Homo sapiens: one gene and its partner. The protein of the gene in region 2 purifies or fractionates together with the protein of the main gene of each other region. This does not show direct contact. Each region holds a gene or a part of one and is shown on either strand. Other genes may lie near its edges. The genes, in order: OPA1 and ZNF776.

Region 1 (3,820 bases), on a different chromosome or scaffold from region 2:
TCTCCTGCCTCAGCCTCCCGAGTAGCTGGGATTACAGATGCCCGCCACCACACCTGGCAAGTTTTTTGTACTTTTAGTAGAGACAGGGTTTCGCCATGTTGGCCAGGCTGGTCTTGAACTCTTGACCTCAGGTGATCCGCCCTCCTCAGCCTCCCAAAGTGCTGGGATTACAGGCATGAGCCACTGCACCCAGCCAAGAAATGTTATAGCAATGTATATTAACAGTCAGTGGTTTCACAAGAACTTCTAAATGCCTAATTGACACCTTTCTAGCTTCTCTATAGTTATTTTACTTTAAAAATACAATTCCTTCTACTGAGATTAGCTAAACAGGCTAAATTTAAAAACAATAAACAGCTGTTGGAAAGCTGTTTAGCTATTTTCCATCAGAGGATTTGCTGATTTGTAGCACAGGGCAAAGGCCCAAGAGAAAAACTTAAAATGTGTAGCAGTTTCACTGGGTTGAGTAGACAAGATTGGAATTCCGAGTTATTAAGTAGTCACGTCTTAAGGTGCCACAATCCCAAAGAAAAATGAACTGCAGAAATAAACCTCCAAAACAAAACAAAACCCTACATCCTGCGCACAATTTCCTTTCACGGCATTCACATTTTAGGAAACCAAGCAGAAAGAAGCTGCTAAGGAGGTTAAAATGCTAAGCTGGGGTTTTGGCACTTTCACTGCTCTAGGGAAACAAAAAACTGGAATTCAGGGTTGGTCAAGGAGAAGCTCTAGTAAACACTAAGGGACTAATGACAAACCGGAAAGAGACCAGCCTCATCTGTTTCAAGGAAACCTGTCCACACCCTGCCTGCCAAAACAAAATTAATTTCTTCTTGAAGTATCATCCACAGCTTCTACAATTAGGATGCTAGTAACAATGTAAAAGGTAGGTTTCTCTCCCATGTTTTTACAACTGATTATTGAACAGGATATGAGGTGTAGTCTGAGGTTCATTTTGTTTTTTTCTCTAGGTTAGATGTACCCCAAATTCCCATCGGTAGTAAAATGGATATGTAAAGTCTGGTACAGTCACACAGTACCACACACAGAACTAGTAACACATAACACGATTCAATCCATAGCTAGACCCACAAAAGTGCAATCTAGATGAATCACACTAGGCTGCCCATACCCTGTTGCACTTGTAAACAGATTTCATTTCTTGAAGATTTCAGCATCAGCCTCACTGTCTTTCTCCCACTATTCTTGCCATAATTCTTGGTAATTTCAATCTTCCAATTATTCTACACCTACCCCCCACCAGCTAAACATGAAAAAAACAAAACACAATCATAATGATTCATTTAAAATTTATGTCCACAGAACTTAAAGGGACTTCAGTCCACCTCAGTAATCCTAATATCACTTGACTTTCTCCACTGATTCACTCCTAGAGTCACCACGATCTGTTAACAGACTTCACTTTTTCTTCCTGCCTCAGTCTTTAATCTCTTCTCCTTTCTAATTAACAGCTGATCATCTGGCTTAGTATTTCACTGAGTAAGCGGAAGCAATCAGAAGGAAACTTCCACACGTTCCCCTTTCTTGCCTCCACTGGTGAACTCAACGACTGGTTTCTATGTTCACCTTCCTTGATGGATCAGCAGCATGTGACCTCACTGAGCACTCCCTCCTCCTCCATGTTTTCTTTTTGTTTACCTGACTTTGCGCACACTGTCCTGCTCTGCTTTCCCTCTTACTATACTGGTTGGGCCTTCACACATTCCTTTGTTATTTTCTCTTCCCTCAACATCTTAATGTTCAGAGTGCCCAGAATATACTGCTTGCTTCTGTGTTTTCTCTATCTCTACTCACTCCCTTGAAGATCTTCTCCAGTAAGATCATGACTTTAAATACTACTTTTAGATAGTTGATCATGACTCCTAAATGTATGTCTCTGGCCCACACCTCTGTCTAAACTTGTATACCCAACTGCTTGTTATCACCACTCAGCAAGTCCAAAACTGAACTCCTGATCTTCTTCCCCCAAACCTGATCCACTGACAGACTTCCATGCAAACTACATCCTTCAATTTGTTCAGGCTAAAGACCCTGGAGGCATCATTGATGATTGACACTCTCTCTCTCTCTCCCCATTGCTTTTCTTCTCTCCCCTCTCCATATCAAACCTGTCAAGAAATCCTGTTAATTCTACTTTCAAAACACATTTATAATCTATCCATTTCTTACCAGTTTCACTGCTACTTCCCTAGCCCAAGTATCACCTGGATACTCCAGTAGCCTAGACTCCCTGGTTCTACATCTTGGCTACAACTATTTTCAAAAGAGCAGCCTTTTAAAAGGCACTTTTGTTACTTTGCTCGAAATCCTGCACTGGCTTTCCATTTTACTTAAAACGGAAGTCTGTACAATGGCCTATAAGGCCTTATTGATCTGTTCCTCCCCGCTCTTCATTATTCCTCTAATGTCATCATTTGCCCCGACCATGGCTAGCTCTTCACCCCGACCTGACCACACAGGCCTCTTTGTTGTTCCTTGAACATGACAGCCACACAACCACCTCAGAGGCTTTGCATCAGCTATTCTCCTTGCTGAACACAGGATATCCTCAGGACTACTCCCTCACTTTCTGCAAATCTTGGTTCAAATGCCACCTTATCAATGCAATCTATGAATACTCTGGCACCCTCATTCTCCTTGCCTGGTTCTGCTTTTTCTTGTTGTACAACACTATTGCCTTCTAACCTACTATACAATTATGTATTATATTTATTATCTATTATCTGTCTCCCTCTACTAGAACATACCCTCCATTAAGGCAAGGTTCTTCTTTGTTGTTGCTGTTTACCAACATATTGCCTAGAATGCTACTGGTACATATTAAGCATTCCGTAAATATCTGTTCAATGAAAGACTCTGCAGCCCCATACCTTCTTCCTGTGACCCTGGAGAAATTGTCAGTGCTCCCAGATATGGACTAGTACACCAAGTCACAATCTCCTTCACCTCAGTAACTTTGCTCTTGCAATTTTCCCTCTCTCTTGCATCATTTCCCCCCTTTATTAGATCATTATAATCAGCATATAAACATCTTTAATCCTTTTCCCACTTGCTCCGACAATATTTGCCAGCACCGCTTGCAGCTGCAGCATTTGCCCCAACATAACTCTGCCATAAAATATCTTCACTTTTATGATTATTTTCACATAGCTCTAGTGTACTGACTTTGGAAACAAAAGACATTCTATTTCAAGCATTCTGTTTTTAGTAGCGGTACGTCCATTTACAAAATATAGTAATTTTCAATAGCTGAAAATGTCAAATCCTAGAAAATGCGGAATTCCTATGTGTGATGTTTACATCATTCTCAAAAAGTTGTTGGCCGAAGATTGATTTGATAAATCTGACTTTTAAAAAACAGACATTCTGATGATTGGGACGATTCTGATGTTAGTACTGTTTAGAAATAACTCTAAGAACAGTTTTTATATTTTATTTTCACATTGAAAATTAGTCAGATTTGCTTCAGCTTCAGAGAGTGTGTTTACGTAAAATTAAATGAGCACTGGTGTTGAGCTGCACTTTTTTTCTAAACAGGAAAAGGGTTAAAAACCTTCCCTTAATTCAACAATATTCAATTGCTACTGCTTCATTTCTCTGCTCTTTTGTCACAATAAAACTAGAAAATTATCTATATTCATTGACTCCACTTCCAATATTCTCATTCTCTTAACTTCTCTCTTATCTTATTCAGAATAAAATCCAAAGGCCTCCCAACTGGGTCTCTGTCATCCTCTCCTACCACTCTCCCCTCACTCAGCTCCTGCCACACTGGCCTCCTGGCTGTGCCTTCTAC
Region 2 (3,820 bases):
TGTTCCCTTGGCATTGCTTCTGTACGATTTCTCTCCAATGTGCTGCTTCTGGTCTTGATGATGGTTTGCATCGTCATCCAATTTTTTTTCATATGCCCCAAACCCATTCAATTTCTGATTGTGTTGTGTTCCCTGGTGTAAGATATCTCCCAGGAGAGGGCCACACATTCCCCAGAGGTGGACCTTCTTGGTACATACACCTGTCCAATGTGTCCTGAGTGGGGACTCCTGTTGTATAGAAAGGGTCTGCTTAGAAGGTGTCTCGTCTTTTGCTCCATACCAACAACCTAAAAGAAATAAAATGCTGGTAAAATGCAAGGTACTTCCGAAGGGAAGTATTACTAAGCCATACCTGATCAACAGCTGCTTTGTTGTACTTATATTTACTTGGGCCTAGACATATCCTTTTATATAGCACCCACATGCTTTATGAAGGTCCTTTAGATGTTTGCACAGGAAGGAATTGCCTCTGCTTCCTGTAGTGCATGTATTGTTGGCTCCTTCACATCATGTGGCCCCCTACATTCTGTAATCATTCTAACCCAGTAATATGAAGAAGACTTATCTTCAACCTAAAGGCAACATTCTGTTTCTGCAATTATTTCCATGGAGTAATACCTCTGTTAGATACACTTGTTTGTGTGTCACAGGAAAATACGAGTACAACAAAGATACACTTGTTTGTGTGTCACAAGAAAATACGAGTACAACAAAGCAGCTGTTGGTCAGGTATGGCTTAGCAATGTGTACACACTTCCTAATACAAAATTGATATGCCAGTATTGGAGTCCACTGCAGATGGAAATGTGAGAAAAATGGGTCCAGGTGGGATCCAGAGATGTGAAGATTAGTCCTGGGCTGGCATCAGAGGAGAAGTGACAGGGTATAGAACGGTGAAGTCTGAAACTCTCAAGAATGGGGAAGACAGAAACAGCATATGGCTCGTCATGTTGCCAGGTAAATACTTGTGAAATCAGAGAGCTTCTAGCATGACTTTCCTAAATCCCTAATGTTATGTCTTCCTCCAGGGTGTTACTCCTCAGAGGTGGCCTCCCTCTGGGCCCATCATGCTGAGCCTGGGTTTAGCTGCAACTTCTGGATCACTGAGAACTCTCAGTCCCACTGCAAAGATATACATGGAATTTACATGAGACATGGATGACATAAAGAATAAGAGAAAGACAAGAGAGAAGAATAGCCAACCAACAGTTCAGAAAAAATCAGCACATGATAGCCCATAGGAAAGAAAACTAAATACTACAAAGATAATTTTTGGCCAGGTGCAGTGGCTCACACCTATAATCCCAGCACTGTGGGAGGCCAAACTGGAAGGACTACTTGACCCTAGGAGTTCAAGACCAACCTGGGTAACATAATGAGACACCATCTCTACAAAACAAACAAATGAGGCCGGGCACGGTGGCTCACGCCTGTAATCCCAGCTCCGGGAGCCCGAGGCGGGTGGATCACAAGGTCAGGAGATCGAGACCATCCTGGCTAACACGGTGAAACCCCGTCTCTACTAAAAATACAAAAAAATTAGCCAGGTGTGGCAGCATGTGCCTGTGGTCCCAGCTACTCGGGAGGCTGAGGCAGGAGAATGGTGTGAACCTGGGAAGCGGAGGTTGCAGTGAGCCGAGATTGGGCCACTGCACTCCAGCCTGGTGGCAGAGCAAGACTCCGTCTCAAAAAAAAAAAAAAAAAAAAAACAAAACCAAAAATACAAATGAACAAAAATTAGTTGGGCAGGGTGGCATGCTCCTGTAGTCCCAGCTACTTAGGAGTCAGGTGGGAGGATTACTTGAGCCCAGAAGGCTGAGAATGAAGTGAACCATGATTGCATCAGTAGACTGCAGCCTGGATGACAGTGAAACCCTGTCTGAAAAAAAAAAAAACAAAAAAGCAAAAAATACTCAGGGCACACTGGCTCATGCTTGTAATCCCAGCACTTTGGGAGGATGAGGTGGGAGGATCACGTGAGGTTGGGAGTCAGAGACCAGCCTGGGCAATACAGCCAGACCTCATCTCTATTAAAAATAAAAATAAAAATTAGTGGGATGTGATGGCAGAAGCCTCTAGTCCGAGTTACTCTAGAGGCTGAGGAAGGAGGATTGCTTGAGCCTGGGAGATTGAGGCTACAGTGAGCTATGACTGCAGCACTGCACTCCAGCCTGGGTGACAGAGTTAAGACTTTGAAAACAAAACAGAACAAAACAAAACAAACAAGATAATTTATAAGGAGGGTCTTGCAAGAACAACCTATGGTGCATGTAAGTATTGAGAACATCAGTGATGGGAGGAATTCCTAGCACAGGCAGTCATGAATAAATGTCACCTAGAGCAAGGAAGTAGAACCTGTGCATACCAGTCTCTGATCTAGAAAAATTACTCAACAGCCAGAGGGCAAGCAAGGTGGGATGCATTATGGTGCCTGTAAAGCTCCTTCTCTGGGAGCTTGCAGCAAAGCAGGTGTTGGGGCTGCTCAAGGAGAGAGAGGGCAGTGCACACACCTCAGTCCTACATACCACATAGAACCTACCCAGGGAACTAACAGAGGAACCTGTGCCCAGGCTCCTGAAGTGAGGAAAACAGTCTTGCCATGGGGAAAAAAGATGGGGACAGACAGACAATAGCTGAGGTCATAGAGAAGAGTGTGAGTGCCTTACCTAGAGAAGATATAAGTGTCAGGTTCTCCAGCATCACGTCATGATAAAGGCATCTCTGAGCCTCACTAAGGAGACTCCATTCCTCCTGGGAAAAGTTCACAGCCACATCTTCAAAGGTCACAGTGCCCTGCCGTGATGATGACAGATGAAACCACAAACACTCCATATGCTCATCCACTTATCCACCCTTGCCCTTCCTCCTCCCAAGGTCCTAAACTACAAGGAGAAACTAGGCCCACTGGTGTCACTATCTTCTCATGGGCTCACTGGTCATGGTGTACAGCCATCAGCCACAAGAAGTGGGTGAAACAATAGATTTCTATGTTTTGGTGCTGATATAAAGCGGTCCATAACTTCCTGATAGCCAATGCCCCTGGTAGAGATGAAGTCATGTAAATCCCAATGCAGCATCCTCAGTCTATCAGACATACTCCTTCTCTAAATACACATCATTCCTTTTTTTTGCTTTTTTTTTTTTTGAGATAGGGTTTCACTCCTGTTGCCCAGGCTGGAGTGCAATGACATAATCTCAGCTCTCTGCAACCTCTGTCTACTGGGCTCGAGTAATTCTCTGGCCTTAGCCTCCCGAGTAGATGGGATACAGGTGCATGCCACCGTGCCGGCTAATTTTTTTTTTTTTTTGTATTTTTGGTAGAGAGAAGGTTTCACTATGTTGCCCAGGTTAGTCTCGAAATCCTGAGCTCAAGTGATTCACCCACCTCAGCCTCCCAATGTGCTGGGATTACAGGCATGAGCCACTGTGCTAGGCCAAAATACACATCATTCTTTAGACTGCACAGACACATGCCCATGGCCACCCCCACTAAACTGCCTCCCACATTGGCCTCTGCCTCCCCACAAGTTAAAGTATGTTTATACCCTCTTCTTCCTTCTACCAGTAAGGGTGAGATTTTCACCTTACAGTTATATTAATGACCAAACACATGACATCAAACACTAGACAGGTGCTATAAATATGTTTAAAAATCAAATACACTCAAAGTCTAGAAGAGGACATCCCTCATCATGAAGGACCACATAGGGGTTGCACTATGGATAAGAGTGCATAACCAGAAACTATGATATGCAAGCTTTTAAAATGAAGAGGGTGTGATGACCCCCGAATCCCTTAGGAGGATGCAACTGGCTTGTTT

The links.
Region 1: the proteins of ZNF776 (region 2) and OPA1 purify together in Homo sapiens (affinity purification with mass spectrometry; one large-scale study listed by BioGRID and IntAct). This does not show direct contact.

What each region holds. Positions count from the first base shown.
Region 1 is NC_000003.12:193,638,208-193,642,027, reverse strand, and holds part of OPA1 (dynamin-like GTPase OPA1, mitochondrial), read right to left. Parts: intron 1-3,820. UniProt on the Homo sapiens protein: Dynamin-related GTPase that is essential for normal mitochondrial morphology by mediating fusion of the mitochondrial inner membranes, regulating cristae morphology and maintaining respiratory chain function.
Region 2 is NC_000019.10:57,749,758-57,753,577, reverse strand, and holds part of ZNF776 (zinc finger protein 776), read right to left. Parts: intron 2,794-3,820; coding exon 2,667-2,793; intron 288-2,666; coding exon 1-287. UniProt on the Homo sapiens protein: May be involved in transcriptional regulation.